4 separate regions of the Homo sapiens genome follow, and all the other regions are linked to region 4. Evidence: fine-mapped expression QTL. A gene starts in region 4. Each other region holds a variant in brackets. All regions are shown on one strand. Distances are from middle to middle. Region 1 overlaps CPT1C (carnitine palmitoyltransferase 1C). Region 2 overlaps CPT1C (carnitine palmitoyltransferase 1C). Region 3 overlaps FCGRT (Fc gamma receptor and transporter). Region 4 holds the start of PIH1D1 (PIH1 domain containing 1).

Evidence for each region. PIP is the estimated chance that this variant, and not a neighbour inherited with it, causes the effect.
Region 1: its variant is fine-mapped to the expression of PIH1D1 in whole blood (INTERVAL, PIP above 0.99).
Region 2: its variant is fine-mapped to the expression of PIH1D1 in whole blood (INTERVAL, PIP above 0.99).
Region 3: its variant is fine-mapped to the expression of PIH1D1 in whole blood (TOPMed, PIP 0.96).

The regions. Positions count from the first base shown.
Region 1 is chr19:49,692,260-49,698,647 of GRCh38, forward strand. CPT1C (carnitine palmitoyltransferase 1C) reads left to right here. Exons shown (of 20, transcript NM_001199753.2): 3 at 1-134; 4 at 5,067-5,206. Among named protein-coding and RNA genes, the nearest start is that of CPT1C, 4.3 kb to the left of the region's middle. The variant A/AT (reference allele first, on the strand shown) is at 1,828.
Region 2 is chr19:49,700,571-49,708,830 of GRCh38, forward strand. It overlaps CPT1C (carnitine palmitoyltransferase 1C), which reads left to right. Exons shown (of 20, transcript NM_001199753.2): 5 at 114-285; 6 at 747-848; 7 at 927-1,064; 8 at 4,140-4,217; 9 at 4,437-4,544; 10 at 4,644-4,728; 11 at 5,339-5,534; 12 at 5,661-5,843; 13 at 6,948-7,053; 14 at 8,153-8,260. Among named protein-coding and RNA genes, the nearest start is that of CPT1C, 14 kb to the left of the region's middle. The variant A/G (reference allele first, on the strand shown) is at 3,836.
Region 3 is chr19:49,514,372-49,522,631 of GRCh38, forward strand. It overlaps FCGRT (Fc gamma receptor and transporter), which reads left to right. Exons shown (of 7, transcript NM_001136019.3): 4 at 1-115. Among named protein-coding and RNA genes, the nearest start is that of FCGRT, 5.8 kb to the left of the region's middle. RefSeq lists an enhancer at 1-513. The variant C/G (reference allele first, on the strand shown) is at 3,595.
Region 4 is chr19:49,450,312-49,458,092 of GRCh38, forward strand. PIH1D1 (PIH1 domain containing 1) reads right to left here and starts at 1,503. Exons shown (of 9, transcript NM_017916.3): 1 at 1,174-1,503; 2 at 471-537. The coding sequence starts at 1,263. It overlaps ALDH16A1 (aldehyde dehydrogenase 16 family member A1), which reads left to right and starts at 2,914. Exons shown (of 17, transcript NM_153329.4): 1 at 2,914-3,110. The coding sequence starts at 3,021. RefSeq lists enhancers at 1,131-1,809, 1,434-1,713, 1,724-1,773, 3,507-4,466.

The DNA of each region.
Region 1 (6,388 bases), 240 kb after region 4:
AAGCGCACCAGGCCGTGGGCTTCCGACCCTCGCTGACCTCGGACGGGGCTGAAGTGGAACTCAGTGCCCCTGTGCTGCAGGAGATCTACCTCTCTGGCCTGCGCTCCTGGAAAAGGCATCTCTCACGTTTCTGGGTGAGGAGCGGTGCTGGTCGGTTTCCTTCCGGGGATCCAGGTTTCTGCTTCCGGGATGTCTGAGGCTCACTTCCGGCATTTCAGCTGGTTCATTTCTGGGAGACTATCACCCCTTTTTCTTAGAATTTTGATGTCTGCTCCCAGGACCCCTTTAGCAATTTCTCCGTGGCTCACTTCTGGGATCCACAGCCCCACCTGCTGAGAACCTCTGCTCACTTCTTTCACCCAAGAGGGGAACTGGGCCCCCCAAAAACTACCCACTTCCAGTTTCTAGAACTCCATATCCTTCCCTTATGGTGAAATTATCATTTCTTCCTTTCATCTCCAGCTTCTTTTGTAGTTGTTGTTTCTGAGACACAGTCTCACTCTGTCGCCCAGGCTGGAGTGCAGTGGCGGGATCTCAGCTCACTGCAACCTCCGCCTCCTGGGTTCAAGCAATTCCCTGCCTCAGCCTCCCAGGTAGCCGGGATTATTGGCGCACGCCACCATGCCTGGCTTATTTATTTATTTATTTATGAGACAGAGTCTCACTCTGTTGCCCAGACTGGAATGCAGTGGGGTGATCTTGGCTCACTGCAACCACCTCCCAGGTTCAAGCGATTCTCCTGCCTCAGCCTCCCGAGTAGCTGGGATTACAGGCATGGATTATACGCCCAGCTAATTTTTGTATTTTTAGTAGAGACGGGGTTTCAACATGTTGGCCAGGCTAATCTCGATCTCCTGACCTCAAGTGATCTGCCTCCCAAAGCGCTTGGGTTACAGGAATGAGCCACCGCGCCCGGCCCAAACTCCTGCTCTGTCCCTGTTCTGGAATGCGCATGCCCAATGTGTAACCAGCACCCATGTCTGTCCCAGGGTTTCTGGTTCTAGAACTCTTGCACTGTCTCCATACAGGGACTCCCTGCTTGTCACATCCTCTGTGTGTGAACTGGGGTCTGGAACACCTGTGGGGTCATGATTGAGTTTGAATCCTGACTCCACCGCTTAGTAGCTGTGTCATCTTGGGCAAGCACCTCTCTTGGAGTCGCAGTTTCCCCTCGTGGAAAACATGGGTGTTGACAGCACCTCCCTCACAGGATAGCCTTGAAGACTAAATTAATTCTTCTATGTCCTGGCCCATGGCGAGGTCTGAGTGTTAGCTTCTGATATTGTTCTTCATTCATTCACCATATATTTATGGGGCATCCGGTAAGGGCCTGGCCCTCTTTAGCATGGAGAACACAGCAGATATCAACAGACAGAATCACGCCTGGGCACTGCGGGCTCACGGCTTTAATCCCAGCACTTTGGGAGGCTGAGGCAGGAGGATCACTTGAGCCCAGGACTTGGACACCAGCCTGGACAACATAGGGAGACCCCATCTCTATTAAAAAAATAAAGACAGGTCGGGCACGGTGGCTCATGCCTGTAATCCCAACACTTTGGGAGGCTGAGACGGACGGATCATGAGGTCAGGAGATCGAGACCCTTCTGGCTAACACGGTGAAACCCCGTTTCTACTAAAAATACACACACACACAAATTAGCCTGGTGTGGTAGTGGGTGCCTGTAGTTCCAATTACTCAGGAGGCTGAGGCAGGAGAATGGCGTGAATCCGGGAGGCGGAGCTTGCAGTGAGCCAAGATGGCGCCACTGCACTCCAGCCTGGGCGACAGAGCGAGACTCCGTCTCAAAAAAAAATAAAATAAAATAA[A/AT]AAATAAATAAATAAATAAATAAATAAATAAATAAATAATAAAGACAGAATCCTGCTTTTATAGAGTTCTCATTCGAGTTGGGGGAGAAGGCAATAAAACAGATGAGCAAAACAGAAGGCAATAAAACAGATGAGCAAAATATAGGGTATGGTGACATTCTATAGTGTCATCTGATATTGATGGTGACACATGCTATGGTGAATGATAAATCGGGTAGAGAAGAGTGATGTGGGGGTGTTGCAGTTAAATAAGGGGGTGGCAGGCCAGGTGCGGTGGCTCACGCCTGTAATCCCAGCACTTTGGGAAGCCAAGGCAGACAGATCACGAAGTCAGGAGTTCAAGACCAGCCTGGCCAATATAGTGAAACCCCATCTCTACTAAAAATACAAAAATTAGCCGGGTGTGGTGGCAGGCACCTGTAATCACAGCTACCTGGGAGGCTGAGGCAGAAGAATCACTTGAATCCAGGAGGCAGAGATTGCAGTGAGCCAAGATTGCGCCACTGCACTCCAGCCTGGGTGACAGAGCAAGACTCCGTTTCAAAAAAAAAAAAAAAAAAGGGGGTGGGAGCCGGCGGCCAGGAGGATCTCCTGAAGCTGGGATGCTTCAGCAGGCTAAACTGAACCTCTGTGGTCTTGTTGGTTGTATAATCTGTTCCAGTTGGCAAACAGCCACTGCCTTGAACTCCGAATCCCTCTCCCGCCCTTACCCTGGGACTCCTTGGGCCTCAGGCCAGTCTACCAACTAAAGTGTTAACATGTGACCATCCTTGGCCAGGCATGGTGGCTCACGCCTCTAATCCCAGCACTTTGGGAGGCCGAGGCGGGCAGATCACGAGGTCAGGAGATCAAGACCATCCTAGCTAACACAGTGAAACTCCGTCTCTACTAAACATACAAAAAAATTAGCTGGGCGTGGTGGCAGTCACCTGTAGTCCCAGCTACTTGGGAGGCTGAGGCAGGAGAATGGCGTGAACCCAGGAGGCGGAGCTTGCAGTGAGCCGAGATCGTGCCACTGCACTCCAGCCTGGGCAACAAAGCGAGACTCCGTCTCAAAAAAAAACAAACATGTGGCCATCCTTTTCGTGTGTTTAAATACATACATACATAGATACATACATATTTATAGACCTATAAATATATACATGCACACACATATATATGATAACATTACATGGAGAAAAATGCACAATTTTTTTTTTTTTTTTTTTTTTGAGACGGAGTTTTGTTCTTGTTGCCCAGGCTGGATTGCAATGGCATGATCTTGGCTCACTCCAATTTCCGCCTCATGGGTTCAAGCTATTCTCCTTCCTCAGCTTCCCAAGTAGCTGAGATTACAGGTGCCTGCCACCAGGCCCGGCTAATTTTTTGTATTTTTAGTATAGACAGGGTTTCACCATGTTGGCCAGGATGATCTCGAACTCCTGATCTCAGGTGATCCACCCGCCTTGGCCTCTCAGAGTGCTGGGACTACAGGCATGATCCACTGCACCTGGCCTTTTTTTTTTTTTTTTTTTTTGACATGGAGTCAGTCTGTTGCCAGGCTGGAGTGCAGTGGCGTGATCTCGACTTACTGCAACCTCTGCCTCCTGGGTTCAAGTGATTCTCCTGCCTCAGCCTCCAAGTAGCTAGGACTACAGGCGTGTGCCACCACGCCAAGCTAATTTTGTATTTTTAGTAGAGACGGGGTTTCACCATGTTGGCCAGGATGGTCTCGATCTCTTGACCTCGTGATCCGCCCACCTTGGCCTCCCAAAGCACTGGGATTACACGCATAAGCCATTGCCCCTGGCCTTTTTTTTGAGACAGCGTCTCACTCTGTTGCTGTTGCCCAGGCTGGAGTGCAATAGCAGGATCTTGGCTCACTGCAACCTCCATCTCCTGGGTTTAAGCAATTTTTCTGCCTTAGCCTCCTGAGTAGCTGGGATTATAGGTTCCCACCACCACGCCTGGCTAATTTTTGTATTTTTAGTAGAGATGGGGTTTTGCCATGTTGGCCAGGCTGGTCTGGAATGCCTGACCTCAGGTGATCCACCCGCCTAGGCCTCCCAAAGTGCTGGGATTACAGGCATGAGCTACTGCGCCCGGCCAAACCCCAGTGTTTTCATTTGTAAAATGAGATCATCTTAGTACTTATTTCACATGGTTTGGGGAGGATTTAAATTGTTAATCCTTGTAAATGGCACCTGGAATGTAGTAAGTGCTCATTAAACGTTAGTTATCTCTCTGAGGCTTCCAAAGGAGTTTAGTTAGTAACGCAGTGCTGTTGGTCGTTCCTCATTCATTCCATGCCCTGGTACTTCTAGAAGGCCTTACTGAGCTCCAGACCCTGCTCTGAATAGGGATCATTTTTCTTTTTCTTTTCTTTTCTTTTTTTTTTTTTTTTTTGAGACAGGGTCTTACTTACTTTGTTACCCAGGCTGGAGTGCAGTGTCACCATCACAGCTCACTTCATCCCTGAACTCCTGGGCTCAAGCGATCCTCCTGCTTCAGCCTTCCAAGTAGCTGGGACTAAGGTGTGTGCCACTGCGCCTAATTTTTTTTTCTTTCTTTTTTTTTTTTTGGAGACCTTGTCTTGCTCTGTCACCCAGGCTGGAGTGCAGTAGCGTGATCTTGGATCACTGCAACCTCAGCCTCCCGGGCTCCAGCGATTCTCGTGCCTCAGTCTCCCAAGTAGTTGGGATTACAGGTGCCTGCCACCATGCCCGGCTAATTTTTGTATTTTTACTAGAGACGGATTTCACCATGTTGGCCAGGCCAGTCTTGAACTCCTGGCCTCAAGTGATCCGCCTGCCTCAGCCTCCCAAAGTGTTGGGATTACAGGCGTGAGCCACCGCTGGTCTTGAACTCCTGGGCTCAAGGGATTCTCCTCCTTGACCTCCCAAAGTGCTGAGTTTACAGGAGTGAGCCACCACATCCGGACTGTTCTGCCTTTGACAGCCTCCCCTTCCAGGTCCTGCCTCAGAATATCCTCCTCCAGGGAGCCCTCCCTGATGCCCTCGAACTGTAACTTGGCAGCACAGGGCTCCTCCTATTTCTTGCCCTATAGCAATTAATACTTACTTCATTCTGGTCTGACCTCGCTGAGGGCAGGACCTGGATCTCTCTGTTCCCTACTAGATCTTGAGCCTCCAGCTCAGGGCTCCGCACTGGGTGCTCAGTAATGTCTGGGGATGGCACAGAACAGGGGCTCAGAGGAGAGGGCAGATGATTCAATGGATGCCCTTTCCTCCCCACAGAATGACTTTCTCACCGGTGTGTTTCCTGCCAGCCCCCTCAGTTGGCTTTTCCTCTTCAGTGCCATCCAGCTTGCCTGGTTCCTCCAGCTGGATCCTTCCTTAGGACTGATGGAGAAGATCAAAGAGTTGCTGCCTGACTGGTGAGGTCCCCCCACTCCAGCCCAGTAACCCCCAATCACTCTCCCTTCACCCAGTAAGTTCCTCTGTCATTGTGGTGTACCTGCTAAAGAAAAGTAACCTCTGAGACTTACATTGGGTCAGATTAATAAAGGCATGGCATGAAGAAAAAGGAGGTGAGGCCGGGCACAGTGGCTCACCCCTGTAATCCCAGCACATTGGGCATTGGGAGGCTGAGGTGGGTGTATCGCTTGAGGTCAGGAGTTCGAGACCAGCCTGGCCAACATGGTGAAACCTTGTCTCTACTAAAAATACAAAAATTAGGCCAGGCATGGTGGCTCATGCCTGTAATCCCAGCACTTTGGAAGGCTGAGGCACGTGGATCAACTGAGATCAGGAGTTCAAGACCAGCCTGGCCAACAGGGTGAAACCCTGTCTCTACTAAAAATACAAAAAATTAGCTGGGCGTGGTGGCAGGAGCCTGTAATTCCAGCTACTAGGGAGGCTGAGGCAGGAGAATCGCTTGAACCCGGGAGGTGGAGGTTGCAGTGAGCCGAGATTGCGCCATTGCACTCCAGCTTGGGTGACAAGAGCGAAACTCCATCTCAAAAAAAAAAAAAAAAAAAAAAGGTGTGAGCTTTGCTGGGCACAGTGGCTCATGCCTGTAATCCCAGCACTTTTGGAGGCCAAGGCAGGAGGATCACTTGAGCCCAGGAGTTTGAGACCAACCTAAGCAACATGGTGAAACCCCGTCTCTACTAAAAATAACAAAAAATTAGCCAAGTGTGGTGTCACTTACCTGTGGTCCCAGCTACCCAGGAGGCTGAGGTGGAGATCACCTGAGCTCAGGAGGTCGAGGCTGCAGTGAGCTGAGATCATGCCACTGCATTGCAGCCTGGGCAACAGAGTGACACCCTGTCTCAAGAAAAAAGAAAAATAGCCAAGCATGGTGGTTTACACCTGTAATCCCAGCACTTTGGGAGGCCGAGGTGGCCAGATCACCTGAGGTCAGGAGTTTGAGACCAGCCTGGACAACATAGTGAAACCCCGTCTCTACTAAAAATACAAAAATTAGCCGGGTGTGGTGGTGCGCGCCTGTAGTCCCAGCTACTCAGGAGGCTAAGGCAGGATAATCACTTGAACCCGGGAGGCGGAGGTTGCGGTGAGTCGAAATTGTGCCACTGCACTTCAGCCTTGGTGACAGA
Region 2 (8,260 bases), 250 kb after region 4:
GGGTTTCTCTGTCTGACAGCCAAAAGATCAGCGCAGGGGCTGGAGGGGGCTGGAAGGGAGGGAGGTTCTGAGGCCAGGAGACCCAGGCCCAGCCTCTGTTTCTCTCCCCGCAGGGGTGGACAACACCACGGGCTCCGGGGGGTCCTGGCAGCCGCGCTGTTTGCCTCGTGTTTGTGGGGAGCCCTGATCTTCACACTGCACGTGGCCCTGAGGCTGCTTCTGTCCTACCACGGCTGGCTTCTTGAGCCCCACGGAGCCATGTCCTCCCCCACCAAGACCTGGCTGGTATGGGAGGGGCATAGCCCTGCTCAGGCTCTCCTGGGACCCGCTTATCTATTCCCCTCTCTCTGGGTCTCTGTCCCCCTCTCTCTGGGTCTCTGTCCCTCTCTCTCTGGGTCTCTTCCCCCTCTCTTTCTGGGTCTCTGTCCTCCTCTGTCCCTGGGTCTCTGTCCCCCTCTCTCTGGGTCTCTGTCCCCCTCTCTCTCTGTGTCTCCGTCCCCCCCTCTGGGTCTCTACCCCCGACTCTCTCTGGGTCTCTGCCCCCCTCTCTCTCTGGGTCTCTGTCCCCCTCTCTCTGGGTCTCTGTCCCCTGTCTCTGGGTCTCTGTTCCTTTCTCTCTTGGGGTCTCCGATGCTCTTAAGTCTCTGTGTCCTTCTCTTTGGGTTTCTGTCCCACTGTCGACCCCTGCCCCGTCAACTCCCTGGCTCCGGTGAGGGGTTAATGACCCGGTAACTCCTCCTCCCCAGGCCCTGGTCCGCATCTTCTCTGGCCGCCACCCGATGCTGTTCAGTTACCAGCGCTCCCTGCCACGCCAGCCCGTGCCCTCTGTGCAGGACACCGTGCGCAAGGTGGGCCTGGGAGCGCGCAGACGGGCTGGGGCGGCCGGGGCGGGCCGGGGGCGTGACCTGCCCTCTTCTCCCCTTTAGTACCTGGAGTCGGTCCGGCCCATCCTCTCCGACGAGGACTTCGACTGGACCGCGGTCCTGGCGCAGGAATTCCTGAGGCTGCAGGCGTCGCTGCTGCAGTGGTACCTGCGGCTCAAGTCCTGGTGGGCGTCCAATTATGTGAGTCCCGCCACCGCCACCAACGCCCCACCTGAAGGGCTAAGGTTGTGAGCTCGCCTGCTAAACTTGCGAGTTATACGCCCTGCCCCACGACACGCCCACAACCCACACGCCCCCAGCCCCCAAGGGTCAATACCCTGAGCCCCGCTCACATACATCTATATCCTAACCTCCACATTTATATATATATAAAAATATATATGTATATATATTTATTTATATATAAATATATAGTGTATATATAAATATATATATTTATTTATAAATATATATATTTATATTTATATACAAATATTAATATTTATAAATTTATATATAAATATATTTATATATAAATTTATAAATAAATATATAAATATTATAAATATATTAAATATATTTATTTATAAATTATAAATATATATTTATTTATAAATTATAAATATATATTTATTTATAAATTATAAATATATATTTATTTATAAATTATAAATATATATTTATTTATTTATAAATTATAAATAAATATATATTTATTTATAAATTATAAATAAATATATATTTATTTATATATAGGCTTATATATTTATTTATATATATATGCTCATAACATATATATGCTCTCTCTATATATTTAATGTTGAAGTTTGGGGTATAGATGCTCCAGTATTCTGAGCTTCACCCTTGATCTTCCAAAGTTTGAACCAGAATTCCAGGACTTAGCCCTGGTGCAATGTCTCACGCCTGTAATGCCAGCAGGTTGCGAGGCCAAGGCAGGCGGATCACGTGAGGTCAAGAGTTCAAGACCAGCCTGGCCAACATGGTGAAACCCCGTCTCTACTAAAAATACAAAAATTAAACAGGTCTGGTGGCGCACACGCCTATAATCCCAGCTACTCGGGAGGCTGAGGCGGGAGGATTGCTTGAACCCAGGAGGCAGAGGTGGCACTGAACTGAGATCGCGCCACTGCACTTCGGCCTGGGCCACAGAGCAAGACTCTGTCTCAAAAAAAAAAAAAGAAAAGAAAAAAAAAAAGACAAAACCAAAGGAGTTGAATGGTGAGGAGTGGTGGGAGAGGCCTGAACTCCAGACTGAGGATCCTGGACTCTTTCCTGGGGGTACTAGGGAGCCATGGGAGGGTTTGGAGCAGGGAAGGGGCAGGGTCAGCTTTGGTGTGGGGGAAAGACTGGAGGGCGGGAGGCTGCAGAGGAAGCTACCGTGAGACCTACCATTGTAGGTCATTGAGACACTGGGCTGGGATGAGAAAAGCTGCAGCAAGAGTGAGAGGGGAAGGGAAGAGGGTCCCCGGCAGAGCCCCACGAGGCAGCTATGTGGAAGCCTCAGTTGGTCAAACCCAGCGAAGGGGACGAAATATCTGGAGAAGTAAAAGGGAATGCAGGCCTTGCTTTTCTGGTTAAATATTTTTTTCTTCACACTTTTGGACAAGATTCTGTTTACACACACACACACACACACACACACACACTCATTTCTTTCTTCCCTTCCTTCCCTCCCTCCCTCCCTCCTTTCCTACCTTCTTTCCTGCCTGCCTGCCTGCCTTCTCTCTCTCTTTCCTTCCTTTTTTTCTGTCTCCTTCCTTCCTTTTTTTCTTTGAGATGGAGTCTCACTCTGTCGCCCAGGCTGTAGTGCACTGGCACCGTCTCAGCTCACTGCAAGCTCTACCTCCCAGGTTCACGCCATTCTCCTGCCTCAGCCTCCCATACCTGGCTAATTTCTTTTTTTTTTTTTTTGTATTTTTGTATTTTTAGTAGAGATGGGGTTTCACCGTGTTAGCCAGGATGGTCTCGACCTCCTGACCTCGTGATCCGCCTGCCTCGGCCTCCCAAAGTGTTGGGATTTACAGGCGTGAGCCACCATGCCCGGCCTCTTTCTTTCTTTCTTTCTCTATCTTTCTCTCTCTCCCCCTCCCTCCCTTTCTGTCTCTCTCTCCTCCCTCCCTCCCTCCCTCCCTCCCTCCCTCCCTTCCTTCCTTCCTTCCTTCCTTCTCTCTTTCTCTCTCTTTCCTTTTTCTTTCTTGGAAGGGGTCTCACTCTGTCACCCAGGCTGTAGTGCAGTGGCGTGATCAAAGCTCACTGCAGCCTTGACCTCCCAGACTCAAGCCATCCTCCCATCTCAGCCTCCTGAGTAGCTGGGACTACAGGCATGTGCCCCTAAGCCTGGCTAATTTTTAAATTTTTTGTAGACATGGGGTCTTGCTATGTTGCACAGACTGGTCTCAAACTCCGAGGCTCAAGCTATCCTCCCACCTCAGCCTCCCAAAATGCTGAGATAAGAGGTGTGAGCCACTGCGCCCAGCCTGTATATTTTATTGTACCTCCAAGCCAACTGCCAGTGACACACGCACCATTTTTTTATGTACAACAACAACAACAAAAAACCCTACAAGAGCAGCTAAACCGTGACACAGTGCTTTCTTTTGTGTTTTTCATTGTTTGAATTTTATCATGGTATTGGCAAGGCCACAATTTTCATGTATTTACACATATGTATATTATTTCACATATTTATTGTTTTATAAATTTTACATTTATGTTCTGTTTTTCTTTTTTGGGGGGGACGGAGTTTCACTCTTGTTGCCCAGGCTGGAGTGCAATGGTGCGATCTCAGCTCCTTGCAACCTCTGCCTCCCCGACTCAAGCGATTCTCCTGCCTCAGGCTACCGAGTAGCCGGGATTACAGGCGTGCACCACCACGTGTGGCTAATGTTTGTATTTTTAGTAGAGACAGGGTTTCATCATGTTGGCCAGGCTGGTCTTGAACACCTGACCTC[A/G]GGTGATCCACCCGCTTAGCCTCCCAAAGTGCTGGGATTACAGGCGGGAGCCACCGTGCCCAGCTGTACCTTGTTATTTCCACCAGCTATGTAATATTCCACTGCCGGAGTATAACAGGGTTTAGCTAACTGATCCCCCATGGATGGATTTCTAGGTGATCGCTAGTTACTGACTACGATGGCTGACTTCTTTGGCTCTATCCTCCCTGCCTGACGCAGGAGCATCTGGGGCCTTCCCTGTCCTACTGTCCCTCCCCCAACAGGCCCCAGCCCCTCACTGTGTGTCTCCCCACCCCGCTCCCAGGTCAGTGACTGGTGGGAGGAATTTGTGTACCTGCGCTCCCGAAATCCGCTGATGGTGAACAGCAACTATTACATGATGGTGAGAAGGGGAGGGGTGAGGTTCATAGGCCCCAGGTCTAGGGTTGGGGGGTACCTGGGCGGAATGTGACGGTCATGCTCAGTGACCTGGATCTAGACGCGCCATCTGGGATTCATCATTCCACCCTCTTTTGGGGTCAGGACCTGTATTTGGGTCAGTGGCTCCATCGGGGGCAAACCTGACCCTGGGTGTTTTGCCATCCCCTCTCCTGGTCCCCAGGACTTCCTGTATGTCACACCCACGCCTCTGCAGGCAGCTCGCGCTGGGAATGCCGTCCATGCCCTCCTCCTGTACCGCCACCGCCTGAACCGCCAGGAGATACCCCCGGTGAGAGGGCCCCAGTGGGTTAGGGATGGAGGTGTGGTCCTGTGGCCTTTGGGCCACGTGGGTCCTGGAAGGCAGCTCACAGCCCACGGTTTCCTGCAGACTTTGCTGATGGGAATGCGCCCCTTATGCTCTGCCCAGTACGAGAAGATCTTCAACACCACGCGGATTCCAGGGGTCCAAAAAGGTGAGACCCTCTCCTGTCCCCACTGATGGAGGCAGAACAATATAGTGGCTAAGAGCATGTTTTCTGGAGTCCGCCTGACTGAGCTGGGAACCATTGCTTCCTTGCTGTGTGACCTTCTGCACGTTATTACCCTCTCTGAGCCTCAGCTTCCACTAAAGTGGGATAATAATTGTACCTAGGGGCTGGGCGCAGTGACTGATGCCTGTAATCCCAGCACTTTGTGGGGCCGAGGTGGACAATTGCTTAGGCCAGGAGTTCGAGACCAGCCTAGGGCAACGTAGTGAGATCCGGTCTATATACAAAATTTAAAAATTAGCCAGGCATGGTGATATGCACCTGTGGCCCCAGTTAATCGGGAGCCTGAAGTGGAAGGATCACCTGAGCCCCGGAGGTTGAGGCTGCAGTGAGCTGAGATCTCACCACTGCACTCCAGCCTGGCGACAGAGCGAGACCTTGTCTCCAAATACTAAGTAAATAAAAGTCCTAGGGTGCTGATGATTACTAGGGTACTTTGAACAACTGACGACACCTAAGAAGTATATAATAAATGGTCACTATTTTTATGTGTCTGGCCTTCCTGCCCCCATGCTTCTGCCAACGCCACCCCTAGACTACATCCGCCACCTCCATGACAGCCAACACGTGGCTGTCTTCCACCGGGGCCGATTCTTCCGCATGGGGACCCACTCCCGAAACAGCCTGCTTTCCCCGAGAGCCCTGGAGCAGCAGTTTCAGAGAATCCTGGATGATCCCTCACCGGCCTGCCCCCACGAGGAACATCTGGCAGCTCTGACAGCTGCTCCCAGGTAAGGGTCAGGGGTCAGGGGTCAGGGGCTCTCAGAGGCCGCCAGTGTCCTGAGACTGTGGAAGGGCAGGGTGGGGCCAGGTGGCGGCTGGGCAGGATGGACTCAGGCACATCCCGGGCCCTCCAGGGGCACGTGGGCCCAGGTGCGGACATCCCTGAAGACCCAGGCAGCGGAGGCCCTGGAGGCGGTGGAAGGGGCCGCTTTCTTTGTGTCACTGGATGCTGAGCCCGCGGGGCTCACCAGGGAGGACCCGGCAGCGTCGTTGGATGCCTACGCCCATGCTCTGCTGGCCGGCCGGGGCCATGATCGGTGAGTGAGTCTTGGGATGGGGCCCCCAGATGTGGCACCCGAGAATCCAGTATCAGACCTAGGACCCCTGACAGTAGACAGCCAGACCCTGGAGCCCACACCTGCAGAGTCTGTAGACCAGGGGCTGCATAGAGCTGAGGACCCCAGACCCAGTGCTTTGGGACCTGGAGACCTCTGACCTGGGGAACCCCTCAACCTGGGACCCAAGACCTATAAACCAGACCCAGTGACCCCCAAATCTGAGACTCCCAAACCCCTGAGCTGGACCCTCCGACCCAGAGAACTCAGCATCACAGACCCAGAGACCCCAGATCTGAGGACCACCAAACCCAGGACCCCTAGGCCCAGGGACCCCAGACTTGGCAACCTCAGCCTCAGAACTTGAACCATTCAATCCTCAGGCCTTAATGCAGGCACCCCAAATCCATGGCCCTAGACCCAGACTTCCAGACCTAGAGATTCTCAGGCCTGGCAGGCATCACTGAATTCCTAGGCCCCAGGGGGGTCCCGCTGACCTCCCAGCACCCCCAAAAGCCTTGAACCTTCCTCGGCAAGTTTCCTAAAAATCTCCAAACTCCAGACTGGGCATGGTGGCTCATGCCTGTAGTCTCAGCACTTTGGGAGGCTGAGAGGGGCGGATCACCTGAGATCAGGAGTTTGAGACCAGCCTGGCCAATATGGTGAAACCTCATCTCCACTAAAAATGCAAAAATTAGCTGGGCATGGTGGTGCATGCTTGTGATCCCAGCTACTTGGGAGGCTGAGGCGGGAGAATCACTTGAACCCTCAGCTACTTGGGAGGCGGAGGTTGCAGTGAGCCGAGATCGCGCCACTGCACTCCAGCCTGGGCGACAAGAGTGAAACTCCATCTCAAAACAAACAAACAAACAAAAAAACAATCTCCAAACTCTAAATCCCAGACATGTCTTGGAGACCTCCAGGGCCACTACTGGGGACCCCCAATGGTCCTAGAGATCCCCATACCAGCACCCCAATGGATTCCCACATCTTCCCATCTAGAAAACCCCCTCAAGTCCCACAGAAAGCACTCTGAGGTCCCCGTGCCCCTCGCTCTTGGTGACCCATCTGAACTCTCCCTGACAGCTGGTTTGACAAATCCTTCACCCTAATCGTCTTCTCTAACGGGAAGCTGGGCCTCAGCGTGGAGCACTCCTGGGCCGACTGCCCCATCTCAGGACACATGTGGGAGGTAGGGCGGCCAGCCCTCCCTGGTTCTGGGGACCCCTGCCCCATCTCCAAAGACCGTCCTCTCCAGCGCCTTAGTGTCAGAAGAAAAACTGAGGCTTGGCCGGGCACGGTGGTTCATGCCTGTAATCCCAGCATTTTGGGAGGCCGAGGTGGGCGGATCATGAGGTCAGGAGTTCGAGACCAGCCTGGCCAACATAGTGAAACCCTGCCTCTACTAAAAATACAAAAAAATTAGCCAGGCATGGTGGTGTGTGCCTGTAATCCCTGCTACTCGGGAGGCTGAGGCATGAGAATCGCATGAACCCGGGAGGTGGAGGTTGCAGTGAGCTGACATTGTGCCACTGTACTTCAGCCTGGGCGACAGAGCAAGAATACATCTCAAAAAAAAAAAAAAAAAAAAAAAAAGAAAAGAAAAACTGAGGCTCAGGGAGAGGCAGAGGCTGGCCCAGGGTCACCTGGCAAAGAAAGGGGACTGGGATGAGGACCTTCCTTTGATGAGTTGGTAACTGGGGCTCAAAGAAGGGAAGTGATTTTCCCAGAGTCACACAGCGAGGAGTTACAGAGCAAGAAGATGACTCCAGGCTGGGTGCAGTGGCTCATGCCTGTAATCCCAGCACTTTGGGAGGTCAAGGCAGGAAGATCAATTGAGCCCAGGAGTTTGAGACTAGCCTGGGCAACATAATGAGAACCTGTCTACAAAAAACGTTAAAAAAAAACAAAAAAAACAAAACCAGCCAGTCATGGTGGTACATGCCTGTGGCCCCAGCTACTCCGGAGGCTAAGGCAGGAGGATGGCTTGAGCCCAGGAGTTTGAGGCTGCAGTGAGTTATAATTTCACCACTGCACACCAGCCTGGATGACAGAGCAAGACCCTGTCAAAAAAGGAAAAGAAAATAAGGACAGTAAACACCAGTTGAGTATTGGTGTTAGTCCTGTTCTTGATGAACATGAACCTGAGACCGCATCTGTGAATATCAGAGGTTTCTGTTTCTCAGGGACTGCCCCCTACCCGAAAAAGGGCTGCATGAAAAGAGGTCCCGGGTTAGATGGCCTCAGTCCACAGGGAGGAAGGGACTCTAACAGCCTCTGTTTGCCCACAGTTCACTCTGGCTACAGAATGCTTTCAGCTGGGCTACTCAACAGACGGCCACTGCAAGGGGCACCCGGACCCCACACTACCCCAGCCCCAGCGGCTGCAATGGGACCTT
Region 3 (8,260 bases), 64 kb after region 4:
CGGTGGCAGCAGCAGGACAAGGCGGCCAACAAGGAGCTCACCTTCCTGCTATTCTCCTGCCCGCACCGCCTGCGGGAGCACCTGGAGAGGGGCCGCGGAAACCTGGAGTGGAAGGGTGAGCCGGATCTGCAGCCGCAGGCTGTTCTGTCCTCTCTCCCGTCATGCCCACCTGCCTCAGTTCCCCTGCCAGGACCCTCCATCAGCCTCCCACTGCAGCCCACGCTCTGCCCCCCCATTCCTCAGGGGTCCTTCTACACTCAGCCCTCCCATGGCTCCCCAGCGCCCCCCAGGACAAACTCCTGGCTTCCTTCCTTGCCTTCTTTTTTTTTTTTTTTTTGTGAGACGGAGTTTCGCTCTTGTTGCCCAGGCTGGAGTGTAATGGCGCGATCTCGGCTCACCACAACCTCCGCCTCCCGGGTTCAAGTGATCTCCTGCCTCAGCCTCCCGAGTGGCTGGGATTACAGGCATGCACCACCATGCCCGGCTAATTTTGTATTTTTAGTAGAGACGGGGTTTCTTCATGTTGGTCAGGCTGGTCTCAAACCCCTGACCTCAGGTGATCCGCCCACCTCAGCCTCCCAAAGTGCTGGGATTACAGGCATGAGCTACTGCTCCTGGCTCCCCCCTTTTTTTTTTTTTTGAGACAGATTCTCGCTCTGTCACCCCAGGCTGGAATGTGGTGGCACCATCTCGGCTCACTGCAGCCTGAACCTCCCAGGCTCAAGCAGTCCTCCCACCTCAGCCAACCAAGTAGCTGGGACCACAGCCCAGCATCATCACACCTGGCTAACTTTATATTTTGTAGACACGGTGTCTCACTATGTTGCCCAGGCTGGTCTTGAACTCCTAGGCTCCAGCGATTCTCCTGCTTTGGTCTCCTGAGTAGCTGAGATTACAGGTGCATACCACCATAACTGGCTAATTTTTTTTTTTCCGCACAATCTCTGTTGCCCAGGCTAGTGTGAAGCAGGGTGATCTCAGCTCGCTGCAACCTCCGCCTCCTGGGTTTAAGGGATTCCGCTGCTTCAGCCTCATGAGTAGCTGGCACTATAGGCACATCCACCATGTCTGGCTAATTTTTATACTTTTAGTAGAGATGGGGTTTCGTCATGGTAGCTAGGCTGGTCTCAAACTCTTGACCTCAAGTGATCCACCCACCTCCGCCTCCCAAAGTGCTGGGATTACAGGAGTGAGCTACCGCGTCTGGCCATACCTGGCTAATTTTTAAAATTTGTTGTAGAGGTGGCATCTCACTATGCTGCCCAGGCCAGACTCAAACTCCTGGCCTCAAGTGATTCTCTCACTTTGGCCTCCCAGGGTGCTGGGATGACAGGTGTGAGCCACTGTGCTTGGCCTTCCTTGCCTTAATGTCCTCATCAGACCCACGCAGCAGCACTTGTCTCTACGCAGCCATCAGAGTCTACGCTCCAGCCACCCAACATAAGCAATCTCCTCCCTCTGGGCATTTGCTCATCCAGTTTCCCCTGGCACCTCTCTGTTCCACCCTTCCCCCTCTCTGCATATACTCCAGCCCTCCTTATTCTTCAAGGTCAGGGCTGGATATCACTTCCTCTGAGAAGCCTTTCCTCAGCTCTGTAGGGCAGAGTTCACTGTTTCCTCCCCGGAGGCCCCCAGATCCCCACTCATTCAACTGTTGGCCAAGAGCATTTGCACTGCCAGGCGCTGCTCTGGGCCTTGAGCAAAGAGGGAAGTGACACACATTCACCCTCTGTGGCTCCCAGGCTGCTGGACAAAGATAGATACCAGCTGGGGATGTGCACAGATATTCATTCCAAGTGCCACAAAGGAGAAGTTGAGACTCAACCAGGTAGTTTTTCTTTAATTGTCTTCTTTCTTTCCTAAGTAGGGAAAATTTCTTTCTTTTTTTGAGACAGAGTTTCGCTCTTGTCGCCCAGGCTGGAGTGCAATGGCGCGATCTCGGCTCACTGCAACCTCCGCCTCCCAGGTTCAAGTGATTCTCCTGCCTCAGCCTCCCGAGTAGCTGGGACTACAGGCGTGCACCACCACGCCTGGCTAATTTTTGTTTGTTTTTTTTTTTTTAGTAAAGACAGGGTTTTACCATGTTGGCCGGGATGGTCTCGATCTTTTGACCTCGTGATCTGCCTGCCTCGGCCTCCCAAAGTGCTGGAATTACAGACGTGAGCCACTGCTCCTGGCCTTTGTTGTTGTTGTTGTTGTTTTTGAGACAGACTCTTGCACTGTCGCCCAGACTGCAGTACTGTGGCGCAATCTTGGCTCACTGCAACCTCCGCCTCCCAGGTTCAAGCAATTCTCCTACCTCAGCCTCCCGAGTAGCTGGGATTACAGGCACACACCACCATGCCTGGCTAATTTTTGTATTTTTAGTAGAGACGGGGGCTTCACCATGCTGGCCAGGCTGGTCTCGAACTCCTGATCTCGTGATCTGCCTACCTTGGCCTCCCAAAGTGCTGGGATTACAGGCATGAGCCACCACTCCTGGCTTAAGGAGGGAAAGTTTCAAACCACACTTAAGTAGAAACAATAGTATAAAACGGACCAGACACGGTGGCTCACGCCTATAATCCCAGAACTTTGGGAGGCCGAGGCAGGTGGATTGCTTGATCCCAGGAGTTCAAGACCAGCCTGGGCAACATAGTAAGACCGCATCTCTACTAAAAACTCAAAAAATTAGCCTGGCATGGTGGTATGTGCCTCTAGTCCCAGCCACTGGGGAGGCTATGGCAGGAGGATCGCTTGAGCTCAGGAGTTTGAGGCTGTAGTGAACTGATTGCAACTCTGCACTCCAGCCCAGATGACAGAGCCAGACCCTGTCTCAAAAAGAAAAAAAATATGGTGGCCAGGTGCAGTGGCTCACGCCTGTAATTCCAACACTTTGGGAGGCCGAGGTGGGCAGATCACTTAAGGTCAGGAGTTTGAGATAAGCCTGGCCAACAGAGTGAAACCCCATCTCTACTAAACATACAAAAATTAGCCGGGTGCGGTGGTGGGTGCTTGTAATTCCAGCTATTCGGGAGGCTGAGGCAGGAGAATCACTTGATCCCGGGAAGCAGAGGTTGCAGTGAGCCGAGATCAAGCCACTGCACTCCAGCCTGGGCAACAAAGCAAGACTCTGTCTCAAAGAAAGAAGGAAAGAAAGAGAGAGGAGAGGGAGAGAGAAAGAGGAAGGAAAGGAAGGAAGGAAGGAAGGAAGCGAGCATCCCATCACTGAGACTTAATAATTATCAACCCATGGTTTTTTGAATTTCACGCACATCCTCACTCACTTCCCCACCCCACTTCACATCAAGCTTTGGTAAATCTCAGACATCACAGTGTTTTTTTCTTTGTTTGTTTGTATTTTGAGATGGAGTCTCACTCTGTCATGCGGGAGTGTAGTGGCTCAGTCTCGGCTCACTGCAAGCTTCGCCTCCCAGGTTCAAACAATTCTCCTGCCTCAGCCTCCTGAGTAGCTGGGATTACAGGTGCCCGCCACCTCGCCCAGCCAATTTTTGTATTTTTAGTAGAGATGAGGTTTCACCATATTGGCCAGGCTGGTCTTGAACTCCTGACCTCGTGATCCACCCACCTTGGCCTCCCAAAGTGCTGGGATTA[C/G]AGGCATAAGCCACCGCGCCTGGCCAATTTTTGTATTTTTAGTAGAGACGGGATTTCACTATGTTGGCCAGGCTGGTCTCGAACCCTCCACCTCAAGTGATCTGCCCTCCTCAGCCTCCCAAAGTGCGGGAGTCACCGTGCCCAGCCAGACTGTTTTGTTGATAAGTCCTTTAGTATGTAACTCTACTAGGTAAGGGCATTTAAAAAAAATTAATACCAAAACCATCATCACACCTACAACCAATTAACTCTTTAATGGCATCAGATGTCCAGTTTTTGTTCCCATATTCCTGACTGTAAATGTTTTTTAAAGTTTGAATCAGCATCCAGCAAGGTCCACACATTTTGTTGTCTTTTCAGTGTCTTTTTCTGATTGTTGAATTTTTCTTTCTTTCTTTTTTTTTTTTTTTTTCCTTTTTGAGACAGGGTCTTGCTCTGTCACCAGACTGGAGTCCAGTGGTGCAATCATAGCTCACTGCAGTCTGAACTTCCTGGGCTCAAGTAATTCTCCCACTTCAGCCTCCCCAGTAGGTAGGACCACAGGTGCACGCCATCAGGCCTAGCTATTTTTGTTTGTTTGTTTTTTGAGACAAAGTCTTACTCTGTCGCCCAGACTGGAGTGCAGAGGCACGAACTCGGCTCACTGCAACTTCTGCCTCCCGGGTTCAAGCAATTCTCCTGCCTCAGCGTCCCAAGTAGCTGGGATTACAGGCGCAAGCCACCACGCCCTGCTAATTTTTTGTATCTTTAGTAGAGACAGAGTTTCACCATGTTGGCCAGGCTGGTTTCGAACTCCCGACCCCAGGTGATCCACCCACCTCGGCCTCCCAAAGTGCTGGGATTACAGGCGTGAGCCACCGCGCTCGGCCGTATTTTTGTTTTTTTCTTTTTTTTGGAGACGGAGTCTCGCTCTGTCACCCAGGCTGGGGTGCAGTGGCGCGATCTCAGCTCATTGCAACCTCCACCTCCCAAGTTGCACCAATTCTCCTGCCTCAGCCTCCCGAGTGGCTGGGACTACAGGCGCCCACCACCACGCCCGGCTAATTTTTTGTATTTTTAGTAGAGACAGAGTTTCACTGTGTTAGGCAGGATGGTCTCGATCTCCTGACCTCCTGATCCGCCTGCCTCAGCCTCCCAAAGTACTGGGATTACAGGCTTGAGCCACCGCGCCCGGCCGGATTCCAATTTTTTACCAGATAGGTGTTTTGCAAATATTTCTTCCACTCTCTAGGTTGTCTTTTCATTGTTTTAACTGTGCCTTTCACAAAGCAAAAGTTTTTAACTTTGATGAAATCCAGTTTATTCTTTTTTTTTTTTCTATCGTGGATTATGCTTTTGGTGTTTAATCTCAGAAGTAATCACCAAACCCAAAGTCAGCTAGATCTTCTCCTGTGTATTTTAAGAGTTTTAAAGTTTTGCATTTTACAGTTAGGTCTGTGATTCATTTTCAGGTAATTTGAGTTACTTGTGATCTTGAGTGTCTTTTGATTTACAGGTTTCCCATTTTCTTTTTGTTTTTTTTCCCCCTGTAATTGTGGTTTGAAGAAAGTCAGTTTATGTCCTATTGAGTTTCTCCTAGACTGGATTTTGCCCTTTGCATCCTGTGATGTTGCTGGAAATAGTCCTCCTTCTCTTCTTTAAAGGAGCAGCTCCATCTAGAAGCTTGGTCAGATTCTGGTTCAATTTTTATGGCAAGAAAACTTTCTGGGTAGTTGGTGCGTATGTCTGTGTGCATAGGCTGCAAACATCTGCTTGCTTCTGTGCTGTTCTGTGGACCACTGGATTCGGGTGTTGTTATGAAGTTCTTTGTCAGGTTTTCTCCTGATGGTTTTAGCGGATAGCAATGGCCATTGCCTTAATCTTTTTTTTTTTTTTTTTTTTTTGAGATGGAGTCTTGCTCTGTCGCCCAGGCTGGAGTGCAGTGTTGCGATCTTGGCTCACTGCAACCTCCGCCTCCCAGGTTCAAGCGATTCTGCTGCCTCAGCCTCCTGAGTAGCTGGGATTACAGGTGCGTGCCACCATGCCTGGCTAATTTTTGTATTTTTTTTGGAGAGATGGGGTTTCACTATGTTGGGCAGGCTGGTCTTGAACTCCTGACCTTGTGATCCACTTGCCTCGGCCTCCCAAAGTGCTGGGATTACAGGCGTGAGCCACCGCGCCCGGGCTTTTTTTTTTTTTTTTTTGAGAGGGCGTCTCCCTCTGTCACCAGGCTGGAGTGCAGTAGCACGATCTCGGCTCACTGCAACCTCCACCTCCCAGGTTCAAGTGATCCTCCTGCCTCAGCCTCCTTAGTAGCTGGAATTACAGGCACACACCACCACACCCAGCTAATTTTTGTATTTTTAGTACAGACAGGGTTTCACCATGTTGGCCAGGATGGATTTTTTTTTTTTTTTTGAGATGGAGTTTCACTCTTATTGCGCAGGCTGGAGTACAATGGCATGATCTCAGCTCACTGCAACCTCCGCCTCCTGGATTCAAGTGATCCTCCTGCCTCAGCCTCCAGGGTAGCTGGGACTACAGGCATGCGCTGCCATGCCTAGCTAATTTTTATATGTTTAGTAGAGATGGAGTTTCACCATGTTGGCGAAGCTGGTCTTGAACTCCTGACATCAGGTGATCTGCCTGCCTCAGCCTCCCAAAGTGCTGGGGTTACAGACGTGAGCCACCATGCCTGACCTGGTTTGGTATTTTGTTAAACAGAACCAAAGGCCAGACAGATTTTCTGTGCTTGGATTTAGTCTATATTGGAAGTACCTTGAGGCTGAAGGCACGTGGCTGTGAGCACGACACAGGAAGATACAGATTTGCTGAAAAGAATAGTGAACATAAAGCAGAAGCCAGAACTGCTGATGGCCGTCAGCCCGGTCCCTCCATTCCACCTGACGGTGCAGCAAATTCTGCCGACTTGCCAGAGAGGCAGCTCCAGGAGGGAGAAGCTGCTGTGCTTTCCTGAAGCAGCAAATGTGTTTTCTGCTGAGCAACCAAAACCAAGATCCCAGCCAAGACCCACGATTGCCCAGATCCACCCTCCCTGAAAGGAACTTGGGCAGTAATGCCCAGTCCTAGGCAGTTGCTGAAATCTTTGCCTTTTATTTTCTTTTTTGAGCTGGGATCTTGCTCTGTCGCCCAGACTGGAGTGGAGTGCAGTGGCACAGTCATAGCGCCATGTAGCCTTGGACTCCCAAGCTCAAGAGATCCTCCCGCCTCAGCCTTACAAGTAGCTGGGACTATAGGTACACGTCACCATGCCTGGCTAACATTTTCTATTTTTTGTAGAGATGGGGTATTTGTTGCCAAGGCTGGTCTAGAAGTCCTGGGCTTGGCCGGGCACAGTGACTCACGCCTGTAATCCCAGCACTTTGGGAGGCTGAGGCAGGCGGATCACGAGGTCAGGAGTTCAAGACCAGCCTGGCCAATATGGTGAAACCCTGTTTCTACTAAAAATAGAAAAATTAGCTGGGCGTGGTGGTGTGCGCCTGTAATCCCAGCTACTCTGGAGGCTGAGGCAGGAGAATCGCTTGACCCCAGGAGGCGGAGGTTGCAGTGACCCAAGATTGTGCCACTGTACTCCAGCCTGGGCGACAGAGACTCCGTCTCAAAAAAAAAAAAAAAAAAAGGAAAAGAAAGCCTGGGCGTAAGGATCCTTCTGCCTTGACCTCCCAAGTGCTGGAATTGCAGGCATGAGCCATTGCACCCGGCTTTTTTTTTTTTTTTTCTTTGAGACAGGCACTTGCACTGTTGCCTAGACTGGAGTGCAGTAGCGGGATTAGAGTTCACTGCAGCCTCAACCTCCCAAGCTCAAGCGATCCTCCCACCTTACCCTTCCTGAATGGATGGGGCCACAGGTGTGTACCATCACACGTAGTTAATTTTTAAACTTTTTCAGAGACGGGGTTTCTCCATGTTGCCCAGGCTGGTCTTGAACTCCCGGCTTCCAGTGATCCTCCTGCCTCAGCTTCCCAAAGTGCTGGGATTACAGGCATGAACCACTGCACCCAACCTTTTTTCATTCCCTTAACGAAACCTTTGGATGAACAAAAATTCTTAATTTCAGTGAAGTTCAGTTTATCGACTTCAATTTATACATTTTATAAAGTTTATGAATTTTTTTTTTTTTTTTTAGACGGAGTCTTGCTCTGTCGCCCAGGCTGGAGTGCAGTGGCTATACCCAGGTGTGATCATAACTCACTCCAGCCTCAAACTCCTGGGCTCAAGGATTCCTCCTGCCTCAGTCTCCAGAGTAGGTGGGACCACAGGCACATCCACCACACTGGCTAATTTTTTTTATTTGTAGTGGAGACTACGTCTTACTGTTTGCCCAGGCTGGTCTCCAACTCCTGGGTTCAAGTGATCCACCTCATTCTCCCAAAGCGCTGGGATTGTAGGAGTGAGCCACTGCACCCAGCCTGTCTGCTAATATTATGTTTAAGAGTTCTGAATCTTTTTTTAAATTTTTTAAAATTTTTAATTTTTTATTTTTTTTGAGACAGTCTTGCTCTGTCGCCCAGGCTGGAGTGCAATGGTGCAATCTTGGCTCAATGCAACCTCCGCCTTCTGGGTTCAAGCGATTCTCCTGCCTTAGCCTCCTGAGTAGCTGGGATTACAGGTACACGCCACCATGCCTGGCTAATTTTTTTGTATTTTTAGTAGAGATGGGATTTCA
Region 4 (7,781 bases):
TGAATGCCTGGCCTCAAGCAATCCTTCCACCTCGGCCTCCCAAAGTGATGGAATTACAGATGTGAGCCACTGTGCCCAGCCTCTCTTCCTATCTTTGTTGTTGTTGTTTGTTTCGTTTTGTTTTTGAGACAGAGTCTCGCTCTGTCACCCAGGCTGCAGTACAGTGGTGCGATCTCCACCCACTGCAACTTCTGCCTCTTGGGTTCCAGCAATTCTCCTGTCTCAGCCTCCCCAGTAGCTGGGACTACAGGCACGTGCCACCGCACCTGGCCTCTTCCTATCTCTGATTCTCTGGCCCCCTACCTACTCCTACTCTGTCCTCCAACTCCTTTCTGTCCTAGGATGATCTCTGTGGGTGTCTGCTCACCCCACCCCCACCCTAGGCCTTTATTTTCGTGTCTCTTTCCTTCCTCCTCTCTCTGTCCTCTCCCTGGGTCTCCTGTCCCTCTCTCTCCGGTGTCCTTTCTCACCAGGCTGAGGCTGGATTTGTGTCGATTCTGGTCTGGTTGTCTGGGCTTGCTGGAGCTCCTTCGAGGCCTGTATAAAGGAAAACTACCTCCAGGCTCGGAGTCTGTGCCATCAGACCCCTCATTTGTTCCTCAAATGGAGCAATTCTTATGCATGAGAGCTGTGGATAACGCGAGAAATTAGACGGTTTAGGTCCCCTTTCTCCTTTGAGAACTAGAAGAACAACCCCAACCCCATTCCCATTTCTTTTTTTTTTTTTTTTTTTTTGGAGACGGAGTCTCACTCTGTCGCCCAGGCTGGAGTGCAGTGCCGAGGTCTCGGCTCATTGCAAGCTTCGCCTCCCGGGTTCACGCCATTCTCCTGCCTCAGCCTCTCCAGTAGCTAGGACTACAGGTGCCCGCCACCACGCCCGGCTAATTTTTTGTATTTTTAGTAGAGACGGGGTTTCACCGTGTTAGCCAGGATGGTCTCGATCTCCTGACCTCGTGATCCGCCCGCCTCGGCCTCCCAAAGTGGTGGGATTACAGGTGTGAGCCACCGCGCCCGGCCCCCCACTCCCATTTCTTAGCAAACTTGAAGCCCATTAACCTCAATTCCCCGAGGCCTGGTTCCCGCCTTAGTGCATTCTGGGAACTGCAGTCCCATCTTTGAGCACCCCGCCAAAATCCCCGAATACTCAAGGATCCAGGGGTCCGGTCACTGCACCTGCAGCAGCAGCTCCTCAAATCGCGCCGAATCAGCACCGATCGCCTCCGCCTCGCTTAGCCCCATTCCCAGCAGCTTCGGGTTCGCCATGGCCCTGGGAAAGAGATCTAGGCGTCCTCGAGACCCTCAACGTGGGAAACTTTGCCCAGGATCCGAACCCCAGTGCCTGCTCTGGCCCTCAATCGACTCCGGATACCTACTATCCTGTTCAAAAACCTAAGACTGGCCTAAGACTACATTTCCATTCAAGACCGAACACCATCGTCAAATCCGTGGGGAATATGTGTCTCTAGACGCACTACCCTCCGTCCTACGTGCCGAACTGTAAACGAAGCCACACTTCCGGTCTATCGGTAAACACAGGACTGGAGTATGCCACACTTCCGAGTACCCCAGTGTTCATTCACAAGCTGGTATCGCGTTATCGACAAGCCACGCCCCTCGCATCAATCAAAAATAAACCCCAAGGCGGATCCCTGAGTGCCACACTTCCTGTATCTATGAAAGCCACACTTCCGGCTGGGCGCTGTGGCTCCTACCGGTAGTCCCAGCACTTTGGAAGGCCAGGGCAAGAGGATCGCTTGAGGCCAGGAGTTCGAAACCAGCTTGGGCAATACAATGAGATAACGTCCCACACCCCATCTCTTAAAAAAAAAAAAAAAGCGCCAGACTTCCACTCTTTCCACAACCAAAACTGGCCCCCTTACTTTGCAGTGAAGGTTGCATTTTCCAAACCTTAATCTCAATGTCCATCCTAAAAGGTACCCTTTTTATCTTTGAATTATCACTTCCTGCCAGCTCTAGATCCTAATACGTCCAGATCTAGACCCGCCAGGTCTAGATCTAGATCTAGACCTCTAGTCAATATAATTAGAAAAGCTGCACTTTGAGGCTGGGAGGCCGAGGTAGGAGGATCGCTTGAGCCCAGGAGTTCGAGACCAGCCTGAGCAACATAGCAAGATCCTGTCTCTACCAAAAAAAAAAAAAAAAAAAAAATTAGCCAGGCTTGATGGCACCTGCCTGTAGTCCCAGCTACTGTGCAGGCTGACGCAGGAGTAATGTTTAAACCTGAAAAGTCGAGGCGACAGTAAGCCGTGATCGGACCACTGCACTCCAGCCCTGGGCGACAGAGGGAGACCCTGTCTCAAGAAAATAAAAGGTAAAACAAAACCTGCACTTCCTGCTACTATAAAACAAGGCACTGGGAAGACGCATCAATAGGACGACCCTTTTTTTTTATTACTATTTTTTTTTTAGACACAGTCTCCCTTTGCCACCCAGGCTGGAGTGCAGTGGCGCGATCTCGGCTCACTGAAACGTACACCTTCTGGGTTCAAGTGATTCTCCCGCCTCAGCCTCTTGAGTAGCTGAGATTACAGGCGCGCACCACCACAGCTCGGCTAATGCTTGTATTTTTAGTAGAGACGGGGTTTCACCAAATTGGTCAGGCTGGTCTCGAACTCCCGACCTTAGGTGATCCGCCCGCCTCGGCCTCCCGAAGTGCTGGGATTACAGCCAAGAGCCATCGTGCCCGGCCACGCCGATCCTCATAAATCCGGAGCCCTCCTAACTATTCGCAAAGTACCCACATCGCCGTCTCCCCTTCCTCCCCGTTTTAAGCAGTGCGCATGCTCCTAAATACGCTTCCCCGTGGGGGACGTAGGCGGGGCCATCGGGTCCTAAGGAAAAAGTGTGGGCGTGGCTGCTCTCTGTATCTTGTAGCCCCACCCCATTCCCATTAGCCCCGCCCCTTTGGGCTGGAACCGGAGGTGTCGCTCTTCGGACCTCAAGGTTCCCCTTAACACAGAGCGCCCCGCAGTCTTCGCGGAAAGCGTTCGGGGTAGGCGATGGCTGCGACGCGTGCAGGGCCCCGCGCCCGCGAGATCTTCACCTCGCTGGAGTACGGACCGGTGCCGGAGAGCCACGCATGCGCACTGGTGAGAGTCTGCCCGGCCGGCGCTGCTCGCTGCGTTCCCCAGGCCTGGGCGCCCGGTTTTTCGCGGGGAGTCCCGTCATCCACTGCGGTAGCTCAGCCGCTCCGCCTCTCTTAGTCCCCGTGATTCCCGCCGCCCAATAGGATCGCGCCCTGTAGGACGCTCCCTTGAGCCTTGGCGGTGGCAGCCTTTTAGTCTGTTCCGGTCTTCCCCACTGGTTCTCTTGCCCCTTGATCCTGAACTCCTCGTAGTGTTTCCGCGGTTTTCCTGAACTCCTCTAGACGCTCTCGTGATTCCTCAGGGTCCCCTCAGAACCTGACGCCACCCACCAGACCCCTTAGGATTCCTGTGAGGCTCCAGTGACCCACAACCCCCATTGTCTTTCCACGACTCTTCAAAACATCCTATGGCTTCCATGGGCCTCCAGAGCACCCCAGACCTCCTGAGGGACTCCCTTCATCCCTTTGATTACCCAGAGACCTTCAGAACTTCCATGGAGCCCCCGTGATCCCATAGGACCCCTCAATACTCGTGGGGTTCATGTGACCTCATCGGAACTCTCAGGAGCCTAGAATACATCAGGACTTCCGGTTTGGGTTGGGTTTTTTTTTTGTTTTTTTTTTTGAGCCAGGGTCTCACTCTGTCGCCCAAACTGAAGTGCACTGGCGCTATCACACCACTGCAGCCTCAACCTCCTGGGCTCAAGCCATCCTCTCACCTCAGCCCCCCAAGTAACTGGGACCAGAGACGCGCGCCACCACTCTCAGCTAATATTTGTACTTTTTCTAGAGACAAGGTTTCAGCATGTTGGCCAGGCTGGTCTCGAACTCCTGGCCTCAAGTGATCCACCCACCTCGACTTCCCAAAGTGCTGGGATTACAGGCGTGAGCTACTGCACCCAGCCACATCAGGACTTCCTGTAATTACTTATGGCCCCTCACAATACCCTCACGGGGCTCCTATGATCTCTCTAGCTCTCAGAATGTCCCATAGGGTTCCCATGATTGTTCAGGAACCCCTGAAGTCCTCGTGAGGGTCCCATGATCCCCTGGGGGTCCTCAGAACCTCCCTAGGACTCCCATGACCCCTCAGAGGCCCCCAGAACCCTCGTGGGGTTCCTGCAAATGAGTAGGGCACCTCAAACTTTCTGTCGTTTCCCCAGGCACTCTCAGAATTCCTTCACGGGGCTCTCATGATCCCCCAGGGTCCCCCAGCACCCAGGCGAAAGGAGCTTAGGCTTCTTTGAGGGGGAGGGCAGGAGGCCAGAGCAATGATCCAAGTGGAAGGAACTGGATCAGAACCCTGGCACAGCCTAGAACTTGGGGAGGCCAAGACGGGCAGATCGCCTGAGCTCAGGAATTCGAGACCAGCCTGGGCAACATAGTGAAACCTCGTCTCTACTAAAATACAAAACATTGGGCCAGGCGTGGTGGCTCAGACTTGTAATCCCAGCACTTTGGGAGTCCTAGGTGGGCGGATCACCTGAGGTCAGGAGTTCGAGACCAGCCTGGCCAACATGGTGAAACCCCATCTCTACTAAAATACAAAAATTACCTGAGCGTGGTGGTGTTTGCCTGTAATCCTAGCTACTTGGGAGGCTGAGGTGGGAGAATTGCTTGAATCCAGGAGGCAGAGGTTGCAGTAAGCTGAGATTGCACCACTGCACTCCAGCCTGGGCAACGGAGCAAGACGCTGTCTCCAAAAAAAATACAAAAATGGCTGGGCGCAGTGGTTCACACCTGTAATCCCAGCGCTTTGGGAGGCCGAGGCGGGCGGATCATGAGGTCAGGAGATCGAGACCAGCCTGGCCAAGATGGTGAAACCCATCTCTACTAAAAATACAAAAAATTAGCTGGGCGTGGTGGCAGGCACCTGTAATCCCAGCTACTTGGGAGGCTGGGGCAGGAGAATCGCTTGAACCCAGGAGGTGGAGATTGCAGTGAGCCGAGACCACGCCACTGCACTCCAGCCTGGGCAACAAGAGCAAAACTCCATCTCAAAAAAAAAAAAAAAAAAAAAAGGAAACAGAAAACAAAAGATTAGCCGAGGATGGCAGCACACACCTGTAGTCCCAGCTACCCGGGAGGCTGAGGTGGGAGGATCACCTGAGCCTGGGAGGTGCAGTGATCATACCACTGAACTCCAGCCTGGGTGACAGAATAAGACCCTGTCCCCCCTGAAAAAAAAAGAAGTTGAGGCCAGGCAAGTGGCTCACACCTGTAATCCCAGCAGTTTGGGAGACCGAGGCAGGAGGATCACTCGCACCTAGGAGTTTGAGACCAGCCTGGGCAACATGGTGAGGCCCTATCTCTATTAATATAAAAATAAAACATAAAAAGTGAAGTTGAGACTTGGACTTGAGTCCTTGCATTTCAGACCCGTGGTCTTGCCTACACCAGCAAAGTTCTCAACCGTACAGTCTCTGGGCCAGACTCAACCAACAAACATGTTTTCTTTGGCGTGAACTTTATTTTTTTTTTATGTGAAATGCTGGACAATTGATTCCATGTAAACATCCGGGAGGTCCTCTTGAAAATAAAATTCCAAAATGTGTCAACATTTGGCTCAACTTCCCTGACAAAAGTCATCTGGGACCAATAGCTCCTGTCTTTTCCATGAATCGTTAAGCTCCTCTTCTCATCCAGGCCCTCTTCTCAGGCCTCCTGGAACCCTCTGGACATTCTTTTGGAATTTTGTTTTTCTTTTGGGGGGAAGCTTTCCAACTTGCACAGAATAATTAGCATTTATTTTGAACTCCTGTTTACCCATCACTGTGCCTCAACCATCATCAACATTTATCCCAGCGCTGTTTCCTTCTGTATTTTCTTTGGAGTAATTTAAACAAATCCTGGATGTCACAGTATTTTCCTATAAATATTTGAATCCTTTCTTCTAACAGATAAGGGCTCATTTTGTTACAAAACTACCATGGTCTGTTACCACACTTAACATTAAGTCATTCTTTTTGTTTTTTGTTTGTTTGTTTGAGACAGGATCTTACTCTGTCGCCCAGGCTAGCATTCAGTAGCGTTCATAGCTCACTGCAGCCTGAAACTCCTGGACCCAAGCAATCCTCCCACCCCAGCCTCCTGACTAGCTGAGACTACAAGTGTGCATCATCATGACTGGCAAATTTTTTACTTTTATTTTTGTAGAGATGGGGTCTTGCTGTGTAGGTCCAGACTAGTCTCAAACTCCTCAGCTCAAGCAATCCTCCCGTCTCAGCGTGGGAAAGTGCAGGGATTACAGATGTGAGCTACCATGCCCGGCCAACAATCATTCTTTAATGTCATCTGATGCCCAGTTCATGTTCAAATATCCCTGACTTTCTCACAGATGTCTCTCTCCCTGTGGGCGTTTGAGTTTGGAACTTCTAAGTAACTTTTTTGCTTTAAAGAGAAAGGAGAAGCCAGGCACAGTGGCTCATGCTTGTAATCCCAGCACTTTGGGAGGCCGAGGCGAGTGGATCACCTGAGGCCAGGAGTTCGAGACCAGCCTGGCCAACATGGTAAAAACCCATCTCTACTAGAAATATATAAATTAGCTGGGCATGGTGGCGGCCGCCTGTAATCCCAGCTACTTGGGAGGCTGAGGTAGGAGAATCACGTGAACCCAGGAGGCGGAGGTTGCAGTGAGCTGAGATCGCACCATTGCACTCCAGCCTGGGAGACAAGAGCAAGACTCCATCTCAAAAAAAAAAAAGAAAGAAGGGCCAGTAAGAGAAAAATCAGGAATATGTGACATCAGAGATGCTAGGGGAGTCTGTAGAAGGAGCAAGTGAGCAGTGTGCTTTGGATTTAGCATCAGGGAAGACGTGACCAGGATGAGAAAGAAATATGGAGGAGAAGTCCGGGCGCAGTGGCTCACGCCTGTAATCTCAGCACTTTGGGAGGCCGAGGCGGGCGGATCACGAGGTCAGGAGATCAAGACCATCCTGGCTAACACAGTGAAACCCCATCTCTACTAAAAATACAAAAAAATTAGCCAGGCGTGGTGGCAGGCGCATGTAGTCCCAGCTACTCGGGAGCCTGAGGCAGGAGAATGGCGTGAATCCAGGAGGCGGACCTTGCAGTGAGCAGAGATCGCGCCACTGCACTCCAGCCTGGGTGACAGAGCAAGACTCTGTCTCAAACAAAAAAAAAAAAAAGAAAGAAAGAAATATGGAGGAGATGTGGTGAGTGAGATGTGGTAAAAAAATTTTTTTTCTTTGAGACAGAGCCTTGCTCTGTTACTCAGGCTGGAGTGCAGTGGCGTGATCTTGGCTTACTACAGCCTCTACCTCCTGGGCTCAAGTGATCCTCCCACCTCAGACTCCCAGGTAGCTGGGACTACAGGCACTCACCACCACACCCGGCTAACTTTTTGTATTTTTTGTAGAGATGAGCTTTCACCATGTTGCCCAGGCTGGTCTTGAATGCCTAGGCTCAGACCACCTCGGCCTCCCAAAGTGGACTCCAAATAGGTGCCACTGTTGTGGCACCAGCCCAAGGACTCAGTTGAGACCCTAATTGAATGAATTAAAGATGTTGACACATCCATAATCCCAGCACTTTGGGAGGCCAAGGCGTGCAGATCACTTGAGGTCAGGAGTTCAAGACCAGCCTGACCAACATGGTGAAACCCCGTCTCTACTAAAAATACAAAAACAAAACTAGCCGCATGTGGTGGCGGGCG